Linked DNA regions of Homo sapiens: region 1 is linked to region 2. The links come from fine-mapping of genetic effects on gene expression. Tissue or cell type: whole blood. Region 2 holds a variant in brackets; the other region holds the start of a gene. All regions are shown on one strand. Distances are between the middles of the regions.

What was found. PIP is the estimated chance that this variant, and not a neighbour inherited with it, causes the effect.
Region 1: SIRPB2 starts here. The variant in region 2 is fine-mapped to the expression of SIRPB2 in whole blood (INTERVAL, PIP above 0.99).

What each region holds. Positions count from the first base shown.
Region 1 is chr20:1,489,123-1,494,974 of GRCh38, forward strand. It overlaps SIRPB2 (signal regulatory protein beta 2), which reads right to left and starts at 2,298. Exons shown (of 5, transcript NM_001122962.2): 1 at 2,153-2,298. The coding sequence starts at 2,237.
Region 2 is chr20:1,428,066-1,435,809 of GRCh38, forward strand. No RefSeq gene overlaps it. Among named protein-coding and RNA genes, the nearest start is that of NSFL1C, 35 kb to the right of the region's middle. RefSeq lists an enhancer at 1-159. The variant C/T (reference allele first, on the strand shown) is at 3,790.

The DNA of each region.
Region 1 (5,852 bases), 60 kb after region 2:
CCTTATTATATACAATTCTAGAAAATGCAAACTATAGTGACAGAATACAGATCCGTGGTTGTTTTGGAGACAAGGAGGAGTGGCAAGGACGAATCACAAGGAAACTTTTGGGCGCTGGATATGTTCATGATGCTGATTTTGGTGATGATTTCACAAGTGTGAAATACACCCAGCACTCACAAAAAAAACTTATCAAATTGTGTACTTTACATATGTACGGTTTAATATATGTCACTTACACTTCAATAGAGCTGTTAAAAATAAATTATTTGTAAAGATGAAGCCTGCGTGTGTGAGGAGAAAGAAGCAATGGAGGAGAGGAAGAAGGAAGCACTCAGAAAGTCTTATCTCAGCTAGGGGTGAGTCTGGGGAAGTGAACACCAGGGAAGAAGCTGGAGCCTGGACTCAGTCCTGGTGCCCACACCCCTTCCCTCCCTCTCCCCTTCTGAGTCCCCTTCTGTGTTGTCACTTGGGCTTTAGGAGGTGTCCTAGGAGGTTTGCCTCTGCCTTGTCAGTGGAGCTGGACCTTCTCATCTATTTTCCATCTGCATCCTCTGCCTTTCATGGTTCCTGTATGGGGCTCCCTTTAAAAGCCTTATAGAAAATGTGTTAGCCCCAGTCTCCTCTACTGCAAAATAGGGGCACTCATATTTTTCTCGGGGCTGCTGTGAGTATTAAATAGAGAAGTGGTGAGGCTCAATCCTGGGCCAGCTACGTAATTTGTGAGGCCAAGTGCAAAACGGGAATGCAGGTCCCTTGTTCAAAAACTATTGAGCAACACAGCAGAACATTAAACCAAGCATGGGGCCCTTCTAAGCAGGAGGCTCTGTGCCACTATATAGAGGGCACACCCAAGAACCAGCCCTGACTCAGCTTGAGATGCAGCTGGACTCAAACATTCCAACTGACTGGTTTAAGCAACTTCTCTTATTTTCCATCTATTCTATTGCAACAATCATTGGGAATATTTTTTATTCTGAGTAGTTTAGATTTCTGATTTCCTAGTCTAGTGCCTAAAACATAGCAGACACTCAAAAGTACCTGTGGAATGAGACCTAGCAATTATGATTCACATCTTAGAATTGAGGAAATCAGCTTAGAGAATTGAAGTGGTGTCTTGAGTCATACGGCCAATGAGTAAGGGAGCACCTAGGTCCGACCCCACACCTGGGTTCTGCCAGGATCTCTCCTGGGGATGGCCACCCCGGAGGACCAAAGATGTCATGGACAGAATCTAGATCTCAGTAGAGCCTGGAGCAGAGGCCCAGATGGGCAGGAGATGGAATGAGCCCACTGAGAGCCAAGTATCCCTGCCTGGTAGATCAGAGAGTTCTGGACTCAGAGGCTGAGCTATATATTCAGGGGTCTCAAGACTCTGGAGCTAACCTGGCCTGCCCCTGAGTTAGAGGAAACATGGGAATGATAATAATAATCGCCAAGAGTTATCAAATCTTTGTTATGCCAGGCACTTATGGGTATTATCTTGTTAAATTCTCCTAAGAAAGTCCCAAGGTGGGTCCTATTTTTAGCTCCATTTTACAGTTGGAAAAACTGAGGCTCAGAAAGAAATTACTTAAACTGGTTAGTGGTGAGGTTTGAGCCTACTGCGTCTTAAGCTGAGCCAGGGCTGGTTCATGGCTGTGCCATCTATGTAGTCGCACAGGGCCCTGTGCTTAGAAGGAGCCCATGCTTGGTTTACTGCTCTGCTGTGTTGCTCAATACTTTTTGAACAAAAGACCGCAGTTTTCATTTTGCAGTGGGTCTCATAAACTATGCAGCCGGCCCAGGGCTGAGCCTCACCACTTTTCTATTTAATACTCACAGTAGCCCTAGAGAAAGGTCCCATGAGCGTCCCTGTTTTGTAGAAGAGGCTCCTGGGGCTAAAAGAGCTGCAGCATCTGACGTGGGCATAGGAGCAATCAAGCTGGAAGCCAGTGGGTGTGAGCGCAGAGCCTGGGAGCTTATCACTTCACTACGCTGCTTCTTGGGACACTGGGGGTGCCCTCTGCCGGAGTCAGGCAAATTTTCAGTGGACCCCTCTTTACTCTATCTTCATGGGGTCAAGCTTCTTCAGGCATGGCAGAGCACTTAGTGCCCCTCTAGGGACTGACCAGCCGGGGGTGGACCCTGTTCTATCCTAGACCCCACTTACCTGAGGGGACAAGGACCAGTGCCAGCAGCAGGAAGCAGGGAGGCAAGTGGGCCAGGCAGGTGGGGGCCGACATCGTGGAGCACATGGCATCTTCTGTGGTCCCCAAGACTTGGGGCTCCTCTGCTCTCTTGTGAGTGTTGGAGTCTGAGGCGGGGCCCGTGGACAAGGCAGTTTCTGCGTCTCTTGGCCACAGCTGCTTGGGGAAGTGTTTTCATTGCAGCAACACAAGGCTGTTGGTGCAATAGGAAGGAGCCCGGTCAAAGGGTTTCCTGCTTTTGTGTCTGGGCTGTGATTCCTGTAGTCACTGTGCTAAAACCTTGCCATAGGCTCCATCCTAGGTGCCCGGGAGGGAGGTGGGCACTGAGGTCATAGGACGCACTCCAGAATCGGGTGGAATTTGGAGCAAACATTGGATCTTCCTCTTCTTGGCTGTGCAAGATTTCAAAGTCACTTCCCATTTCTGAGCCTTTTGTTTCTTCATCTGCAGCGTAGGAACAACGGCAGTTCCCTCCTCAGAACAGTTTTGGTAAGATTATGAGAAATAATGTGAGGGCACAGAACAATGTAAATGCTAAACATATTAACCATTATTATTCATGATGTGCAGAAAGTAGAGGAGGTGACATTGCTTAAGAAGAAGGATTTATTATAAAGCAAGCCCCATGGGGGCCTCCTTTTAGCACTGCAGGGAGGGTACAGGCCTAATTCCTAAAAGTATAATCATGTGTAACTCTCTCAGCCTCTGTTTCCTGGGGTCCAAGTGAAACATACTCAGATTGTGCAAACATTTGCGTTTGTGGCATCTTTGTTTCCTGTAAGTGATCTGAACTTCCTCAGGAGCCTCCTGGTGCTGGCTATCAAGAAGGAAAAGCTTAATCTTGCCAATTCATGCAATCCAGGCAATCTCTTTAGCCACACTGTCTGGGTTCAAATCTTGGCTTTACTCAGTCTGGCTGTGTGACCTTAGGACAATCATTTGACCACTTTATGCCTCGGTTTCCTCATCTGTAAAACAGGAATAAAAATGTGGTAGCATGTGTGGGGTGGAGTAAGCACTCTATAGGCTTTCACCATTGTCTTTTAGGTTAACTCAGTCTTTTAATTAACTCAGGGAAAAGTACAAGAACAACTCAGCCTTTCATTATTTCACTTCCTCCCTCATGCTTCAGAAGGTTCTGGGTGCAGAGGAAGCTGAAGATTCTCCAGCAACAGGGTGGCAGGCCTTGGATCTGAGTATGTCCCCTGGGTCCCAGAGGTCTGGTGTCTACTATGAGGAGGTTAGTCTGGCCTGGTCCCCAAGGACTTTGCACTGGGTCTGTGACTGGTCTTTTCTAGACTTTTGAGGCCTTGCATTGATACCCCTGCTCAATTCCATTACTCCCTCTACTTGTTCTCCTGTCAATGAGATCTATATAGTGAAACTTCTTTGAAAGGGCCACAAGCCTAGATGATTCCACCAGACCCTCAGTACTTTCCATGTCATTCTTACACGGGAATTTCTGAATCACCTGCTCATCTATGCAGATTTCTTTCTCAGCTATTGTTTTTTTCTAAAGTTTTACTTACAAATAATTTTATTTTAATAGGCAAGGCATTGTATTGGTTAGCTATTGCTGCATAACAAAGCACCCCAAAATTTAGAAGCTTAAAAACTAAATGTTCAGTTAATTTACTATTTTGTGGGTTGACAATTCAGTCAGGGCTCCATTTGGTGGTTCGGTCTTCTCATCTCAGCAGATTTTGGCTGGGAATGTTCATGCACTTGAGGTCAGCTGCAGGTTGGCTAGGTGGCTTTGTTACTGCGGTTGACTGATTGTTAACCCAGGTACCTCAGCTGTCCTCTATGTGGTCTCTCATCTTCCAGGACACTAACTTAGTCTTGTTCTCATGAAAGGGGCAGTTTTGAGAGACAGTGCAAGGTACAAGGAAACTTCTGCCATATTCTTTTGGCCACATCAAGTTACAAGACCAGACAAGATTCAAGGAATGGAAAATAGACTTTGCCTCTTGTTAGGGAACTGCAAAGCCTAATTGCAAAAGGTGTGGATACAAAGAGGGGGTATAGAATTGTGGATATTTTTGTGATTTATCTGCCATGGGCATCTACAGGTACAAAATTCAGAGGTCTCAGTGTCTCATTTATAGGGCTCCCAGACATTACTTTCCTTAGGGTTAACCACAGTCACCAGTTTTTGAAGACATTCATTTCCTTTACTGTTTCTGATCTAGTGCTCAGAAGCCAGGTTGAATATGGTTTCTTTGTGATGTCGTGGACTATGAACACCCTGGGAAGACAGGCCATGATCCCTTATGCTGTAGGAATCCCTAAACTCCATTCCCACCCCACCCCAGCATTTGGACCTCAGGACTGTGGGGTTGGCAGGACTCTAGCATCTCAACCCCTGTCTTCTCCCTCTTTTTCTTACTTCCTCACCAAGTCATAAGGGGAGGAGTTCCCCTTCTTTTCCTTCTGGTAGGGACTTTCCTAATCTCAGTCTTCTTCCTAACAGCTGGCCTTCTTTGTTCTAGATGGAATCCCTCCTGCCCCTTCCTCAAGACAGCAAGTCTCACACTCCAGCTTAGAATAGGAAAAAAGCTTCCAGGGAAGGAATTAAACTGCTGGGAGGTGGAGAAATGCAAAAGGAAATAGTTAAAAATGTTATATCTGTCACGTCATCTATAAAACACATGAAATGCGATTGCGCGTGAAGCACTGGCTTGCGATAATTGCTCAGTAACTAGGAACAGTGGCATTCCTCCTGGTCAGTGTGCTTGGGTATCACATGAACTATAGTGTCTATTACTAGCCTGAGTTAAGTTATCCTCAACAAGAGCACCCGAGGTATATATAGAACACAAGTCTACCCATAAAGCTTTTTTTCCTTCCACTACAAAAATGGAACTTTGTTAAAACAACAGCTTTTTGATTGTTTACCATAAAATGGAAAACATACTAAGCAAGCACAGGGAAAGCGTTCAACCTTAGCAGCAATCAAGTAAATACCAGTCTTAAAAAGAGCAACACTGGTGTCTTTGCAATCAGCATCTATCTCCACTTTTTCTATGCTCTCCTCTTTTTTTGGAGGTTCTAAAAGCCTAAGAACTGCATTTTCTGTAACTCTTTACCATCATTATTCTAGGAGAGAATAATGAACCAAGGAGAGGTTCTTGCTTAGATTTGGAAGGTAAAAGGAGAGGCATGCTTGCTTCTCTAGCCATGAAGAGGGGGCAGATACGTGAGAATTGGTGGATTTAATTTATGCAAATGTGAGGTTTTGCAGTGCTGCCTGTCTTCTATAAATCACCTCTAAAGCACAGGCAGCTGGCATCATTAGCAGCAGTTTCTGTGAGTCTCTCAGATTCCTGATTTTCCAAGAGCTACCAGTGAACTTGAGAGATAAAGCAGTGAGGATTTCCGATGGTCTGTAAACACCAAATGCCACAAGTCCCATGAGAACCAAGCATGGCTTTTTATGACCGAACACAAAAGTCATCCAGCCTCATTTCTTCTCTTTTCATTTAGGAGGAAGCATTTAGTGTCTCAATACTAAAGTCTCTAAGGTCCTCGAACTTGATTTTCTGCTATTGGCAATTTGTCCTGCCTTGTGGCTTGGTTTGCCTTTCTTACTCCCTTTTCCTGTTTCATGTCAAATCCCATGGCTTGCTTTTTGGTGTTTTTGTTTTAAATTTTTATGGAGTT
Region 2 (7,744 bases):
TGGAACCACCACACACAGAAGGTTGGGACTTGAGGCCTGAACCTGACCAGGTTGACTGCCAGCCAAAACACAAGATATAAATGTTTCCCATAGAACTTAAATAAGACCCAGAGCCTCAAAATATAATACAGAAAACGTTCAGGTTACAATCCCAAACTACTCAGCTTGTGAAGATCCAGGAAAATGTCAACTCTCCTGGGAGAAGACATCAACAGATGCCCACTCCTAGATGACACAGATGTTGGGGTTATCTGATACCTTTTGAAGAAATTACTACAAAAATACTCAAATGAGTAAGGGTAGATATTCTCTTTTTCTTGAGATAAAATTCAAGTAACAGGCCGGGCGCGGTGGCTCACGCCTGTTATCCCAGCACTTTGGGAGGCCGAGGCGGGTGGATCATGAGGTCAGGAGTTCAAGACCAGCCTGGCCAAGATAGTGAAACCCCGTCTCTACTAAAAATACAAAAAATTAGCCGGGCGCAGTGGCAGGTGCCTGTAATCCCAGCTACTTGGGAGGCTGAGGCAGGAGAATCGCTTGAACTTGGAGGGTGGAGGTTGCAGTGAGCCAAGATCGCACCACTGCACTCTAGCCTGGGTGACAGAGTGAGACTCCGTCACACACACACAAAAAAATCAAGTAACATAAAATTAATCATTTTAACAGGGCGTTTAGTATGTTCAATGTTGTGTAACCAGTACCTCTATCTAGTTCTAAATATTTTCGTCAACCCAAAATAAAGCCTAGTATCCATTAAGCAGTACTTCCCATTGTCCCTTCCACACAGCACCCAGCAACCATCAATCAGCTTTCTCTCTCTATGGATTTACCTATTCTGGATATTTTATATAACATGTAGCTGTCATAGTATGTGACTCTTGTGTCTGAGTTTTCACTTAGCATAATGGTTTTGAGGTTACCTAGAGTTAGCCAAACTGCAGGTAACCTCAAAAACATTGTGCTAAGGTAGGGTCTTCCAGACCACCAAATTTGACTCCCAAGACTCTGACACAAATTTCAAGTTCAAGGGGTTCCTAAAACCACCCTCAGGTTGTATAATTCACCAGAAAGACTCGCTGAAACCTATTATATGTACGTCTATGTTTATTACAACAAAAATATACAAATTAGAACCAGCCAGAGGAAGAGATGCATAGGATGGAGTTGGGAGGGGTCTAAATGGGGAGTGTCCGGTGTCCTCTCCCCAGGGTCATGGACAGTTACTTCCTCGTGACCATGATGTGTGATAACATGCACAGAGTATTGCCAACCAGGGAAGCTCACCTGAACTTTGGTATCTAGAGTTTTTAATGAGGCTTCACTACATGGGCATGATTGATTAAACTCAATCTTCAGCCCACTCCACCCCAACCCTGGAGGTTGGGTTGAAAGCTCTCACAGTAAATTCTATGTTTGGTTTTTCTGGTGTGGCCAGCCCCTCCACCCTAAGACTATCAGGTGTGAGTGGCGTTATGAATAATCTCATCAACATAAACTATCAGGTGTGGTCCCAGTGACTCAACAGGAATAAAGAGGACACTCCTGTCATGTTGGAAATTCTAGACATTTCTTTGAGTGAGGCCAAATTCCTTACAACATGGAAGTTTATCCATTATAGCATTTATCAATACTTCATTACTTTTTTGTTTCTGAATAATCCATTTTATGTGTACACGATTTGTTTATTCACTTGTTTATTGCTGGACATTTGGGTTGTTTCCACCTTTGGGGTATTTTGAATAATGCTGCTATTAAACATGGATGTACAAGTATCTGAGTACCTGTTTTCAATTCTTTTGAATATATATCTGGGATGTTTAACTTTATGCATTAATTTGACTGGATTATGGGATACCCAGATCTATGGTAAAACGTTATTTCAGAGTGTGTCTGTGAGGGTGTTTTCTAGATTAGTATTTGAATCAGTGGATGGAGTAAAGAAGATCATCCTCCCCAGTGTGGGCAGACATCATGGATGAACTTCGGTGTTGAAGGCCCATTAAAATAGAACAAAAATGTGGAGGAAGTGCAAATTCTCTCTCTTTTTCAGCTGGATCACCTTCTCCTGCTCTCAGACAATGGAGCTCTTGGTTCTCAGGCTTTTGGACTCTAAGGCTTATATCAATAGCCTCCCACCCCCAGATTCTCAGACCTTAGGCCTTGGAGTGGGAGTTACACCACTGGCTTCCCTGATTCTCAGGCTCTCAGACTTCAACTGAATTACATCACCATCTTTCCTGGTTCTTCAGCTTGTAAATAGTATGTCATGGGACTTCTTGGCCTCTGTAATTGCATGAAACAATTCCCATAATAAATCTTCTCTATATGTATTGCATTGGTTCTGTTTCTCTGGAGAACTCTGACTAATATAATTCCTAAGAGTGGAATTTCTGGGTCATATGTAATTCTATGTTTAGCTTTTTGAGGAGCCACCAAATTGTTTTCCACAGCAACTTCCAACAGTGACAAGGGTTTCTTTTTTCTTTTATAGGTTCAGTATTCTTTATTATAAACAATCAGACAACAGTGTAAGTGTGCATTTGATGGATAACCGAAGCCAAGTTATTATAATAGAAAGCATGACTTCGCTCAAATAGAGTTTCTTTGTTGTTGTTGATCTGTTTTACATTAATTTGAATTTAACATATGCTAGGATCACCTAAATTTGTCATACAGTTCTGCTATTAAAATTGTAACAGGGAAAGACAAAATGTGAAATGCATGTTATATTTTGCTTTATTTGTTGAATATCTATCTATCTATCTACACTAAATATTTGGGACACATTCAGAGTTAAGCAGGTGCTTAAAGTCTATCAAGTGATATTTATAAAATGTTTTTGTTGCTGTTATGGGAACATCCATATCCTTAGAAGCCAATAAAAAAGAGGATTCTAAATGCTAGGTGGTTGGCTAAATGTTCCTGATTTATACTGAGTGTAAAACAAAATAAAACAAAACATAAGGTATATGTGTTAAGTAGTGACATCTACATAGTTCCAAAGCACTGGCAACTATTAAAATATCATCCAGCTAAAACAAACTTTTCACAATTTTTTTTAACAGAAAAATAATAAACCAACAACAAAAACTGGTAAATGTTCTGGGTCTTGTGAGCAGACCAAAATGTTACTACAGTGTTCTCTATTGTGTGATCCCAGTGTACAAGTTTCTATTTCTCCATATCCTTATCAACATTTGCTATTTTCCATGTTTTTGATTATAGTTATCCTAGCGGGTGTGAAGTGGTTTATCTCTTGCAGGTGTTAAGTGGTATCCCACTGTGGTTTTCATTTGCATTTCTTTAGTAACAAATGATGCTGAACATGCTTTCATGTGCTTATTGGCCATTTGTATGTCTTCTCTGGAGATATGTCTATTCAGGTTCTTTGCCTATTTCTTAATTTTTTTTTTTTTTTTTGTGGTTGAGTTTTAAGTGTTCTTTATATATTCTGGATACAAGTCCATTATTTGCAAATACTTTCTCTCATTTTGTGGGCTGTGTTTCTACTTTCTAGATAATATATTTTATTGTGCAAATGGTTTTACTTTTTATGAAGTCTAATTTATCCATTTCTTCCTTTTGTTGCTCATGCTTTTGGTGTCAAATCTAAGAATCCATTGCCAAGTCTGAGGTTATAAATATTTACTCCTATGTTTTTCTCTAAATAGTTTACCCCTATGTTTTCCTCTTGTATTTGGGTCATTGATCCATTTTGAGTTAATTTTTGTGTATGGAGTGAGGTACGGGTCCAGCTTCATTCTTTTGCCTGTGATTATGCAGTTGCCC[C/T]GGCACTGTTTGTTGAAGAGACTATTCTTTCCCCATTGAGTTGTGCTGAACACTTATTGAAAATCAATTAGCCATAGATATTTATTTCTAGGCTGTCAATTATATTCCACTGGTGTATATGTCTGTCCTTATGTCAGTACCACACTGGTTTGATTATAGAAGTTTGGAGCATGTTTGGAAATCTGGAAGCATGAGCCCTGAAACTTTGTGTTTCTTTTTCTTTCTTTTTTGGTGTGTTTCTTTTTCAATAGTATTTTGACTACTTGGGGTTCATTCCAGTTCCACATAAATTTGAGGATTAGTTTTTCTATTTCCTTAGGAAATGCCATTGGAATTTTGATAGGGGTTGCATTGAATCTGTGGATCATTTGCAATTAATATTCCAATACATCAACATGTGTTGTCTTCCATTTATTTAGGTCTTCTTTAATTTCTTTCAGCAATGTTTTGTAGTTTTCAGCATAGAAGTCTTTCTCCTTGGTTTAAGTATTTTACTCTTTTGGATGCTGTTATAAATGGAATTGTTACTTAATTTCATTTTCAGACTGTTCATTGCTGATGCATAGAAAATGGACTTTCGTGCACTGATCTTGCAATCTGCAACTATGTTGAATTTGTTTATTGGCTCTAGTAGTTGTGTGCATTTTGGTATTGTTATATTTTCTATACATAGAATTATTTCATCTTCAAATAGAGATAACTTTACTGCTTCCTTTCCAGTTTGGAGGCTGTTTATTGCTTTTTCTTGCCTAACTGCTCTGGCTAGGACTTCCAGTACAATATTTAATAGTAGTGGTAAAAATGGGCATTCTTGTCTTGTTCCTGCTCAGTGGGGAAGCTTCTGCTCTTTTACCATTGAGTATAATGTGAGTTGTGGGTTTTGTGTAAGTGACCTTTATCATGTTAAGGAAGTTCTCTGTATTCTGATTTGTTGGTGAGTGTTTGTATCCTGAAAGTGTTTGAAGTGTTGAATTTTGTTGCATGCATTTAATGTATCTATTGTGATATCATTTCCCTCTTTACAGAGTTGTGTTACATTGATGGATTTTTTTTTTTCTTATGTTGAGCCACCCTTGCATTTCTGGGAGAAATCCCACTTGGTCATGATCTATAATCCTTTGAATGTGCTACTGGATTTGGTTTGCTATTTTGTTGAGGATTTTTTGAGTCTATATTCATAAGATATACCGGACAGTCGTTTTGTCTGCCTTTGATATCAAGGTAACGGTGGACTCATAGAATCATACCTTTGATATCAAGGTAACGGTGGACTCATAGATATTCTGCATTTATATTTTTGTAATCACAATTTGTAAAGAATTCTCAAAATCCAACAGTAAGAAAACAAATAATCCAATAAACAAAAAGGCAAGGACTCTTTTTTTTTTTTTTTTTGGAGACGGAGTCTTGCACTCTCACCTAGGCTGGAGTGCAGTGGCACCATCTCGCCTCACTGCAAGCTCCGCCTCCTGGGTTCACGCCATTCTCCTGCCTCAGCCCTCCAAGTAGCTGGGACTACAGGCACCCGCCACCACGCCCGGCTAATTTTTTGTATTTTTAGTAGAGACGGGTTTTCACCATGTTAGCCAGGATGGTCTCGATCTCCTGACCTTGTGATCTGCCCACCTCAGCTTCCCAAAGTGCTGGGATTACAGGCATGAGCCACCATGCCTGGCCGGCAAGGACTCTTAAAAATGCTTTATCAAAAAGGATTTATGGGTGGCAAATGGCATATGAAAAGATGTTCAGCATCATTAGCATCACAAGACATGCTAATGTCAAAACCATGACAAGAGATAACTACACACCTATTAAAATGACTAAAATAAAAATGCTGACAATACCAAGTGTTGGTGAAGCTAAGTAGCACCCAAAAATCTCATATATTGCTGACAGGAATGTGCAGTGCAACAGCCACTCTGGGAAATGATTTGACAGTTTTAAATAAAGTTAAACATACACTTACCATATAACCCAGCCACCCCAGACCCTAGACATCTCTAGAGTATTCACCCTAGAGCAGAGGTCCCCAAAACCTAGGTCATGAACCAGTATCAGTCCATGGCCTGTTAGGAACCAGCCGCACAGAGGAGGTGAGAGGCTGGTGAGTGAGCAAAGCTTTATCTATATTTATAGCCTTGCCCCACTGCTTGCCACCTGAACTCCACCTCCTGTCAGATCAGATCAGCAGCAGCATTAGATTCTCATAGAAGTGCAAACCCTATTGTGAACTGTGCATGTAGGGGATCTAGACTGTGTGCTTCTCATGAGAATCTAATGCCTGATGATCTGTCGCTGTCTCCCAACACCCCAAGATGGGACCATCCAGTTGCAGGAAAACAAGCTCAGGGCTCCCACTGATTCTACATTACGGTGAATTGTATAATTATTTCATTATATATTACAATGTAATAACAATAGAAATAAAATGCACAATAAATGTAAATGTGCTTGAATCATCCCGAAACCATCCGCCCTACTCCCTAAGTCTGTGGAAAAATTGTCTTCCACGAAACCTGTCCCTGATGCCAAAAAGATTGGGGACTGCTGCCCTAGAGAAAGGAAAATTTTGTTCACAGAAAAACCTGTACATGAATGTTTATAGCAGCTCTATTTCTAATTGCCCCAAACTGGCAACAACCCAAATATCCTCTAATGGTTGAACAGATAGACAGATTGTTGCACATTCATATCATGGACTATTACTTGGCAATGAAAAAACAATGAACTTTCCATAAGCACAACATATGAAAATTGTTCCTCCAGATGAATCTCAGAGGAATTATGCTAAGAGGCCAGTCTCCAAAGGTTAAATGCTGTATGCTTCCATTTACATGATGTTCTGGAAAAGACAAAACCACAATGATGAAGAAGAGATCAGTGGCTGTCAGGGATTGGGTTTGAGGGGTAGTGTGACTATCAAGGCATTGCATGAGGGAGGTTCTGGGATGATGGAATTGTTTTGTGTCCTGATTGTAGTGGTGGTTACATGAATCTATACGTGTGCTGAAATCTGTATAATTATATACAACATAGTTAATTTTACTGTATGATAATTTTAAAAATTAAATGAATTAGAAAATGGTTAACAGTTAATACTCACTCATATGGCCAAATGTATAACAACTCTTATGAGGCAGCAGTCTGGCAGAACTTATTTTCTGGTCACAACCCTGCTGACCAAAACAGGATGTGGTCTACACAAAGTGAAGAAACCGCAGGAACCAGCAGATGGTGAGGAAAGTGATCCCTAGCTGCCCTCATTGCTCATTAGCATATGACACTCCCACAAGCACCATGACAGTTTACAAATGTCATGGTAATTACCTGGAAGTTACCACCCCTTTCCTAGGAAGTTCTAAATAACCTGTCCCTCAGTTTGCATTGGCTTGCCCCTTAATTTGCATGTAATTAAAAATGGGTTTATGTGAGTATACAGTTGCCAGGAGCCCATATGTTGCTGACTGAAGTGCACTGCCTAGGAGTTATCCTTGCTCTACAAAGAGCAGTACTGTTCAACAAAAGATTGCCAATTCCACTGGCTTGTCCTTAAAAGCTAAGGACCCTTCTGGGATAAGCACCAATTTTGGGGCTCACCTATTCTGTATCAGTTATACTGACATACCCATTTTGCAGATGAAGAAAAGGAGGCCCAGAGGGGCTGTTGGGTTGCCCAGGGTCTCAGAGCTAATAAATGGCAGAGCTGAGAACCTGATTTGGGCAGTTTGCCCTCATGGTCATTATTCAAAATCTCTTCATTAACTGACTCAACTGGGGGGCACAAGGCCAAATTTTTCTGAGTTTTCAGGTAGCTGGTGATTGTTTTTGTTTAAGTCTCCTAGGATTTTTTTTTTTTTTTTACAAATTACATGTTTTTGTAATTTGTTACATGCTGTAATAAGAACTTTAAAAAAAGTAGATTTACAACAGCTGAATTTCCTAAAATACAGGGTGC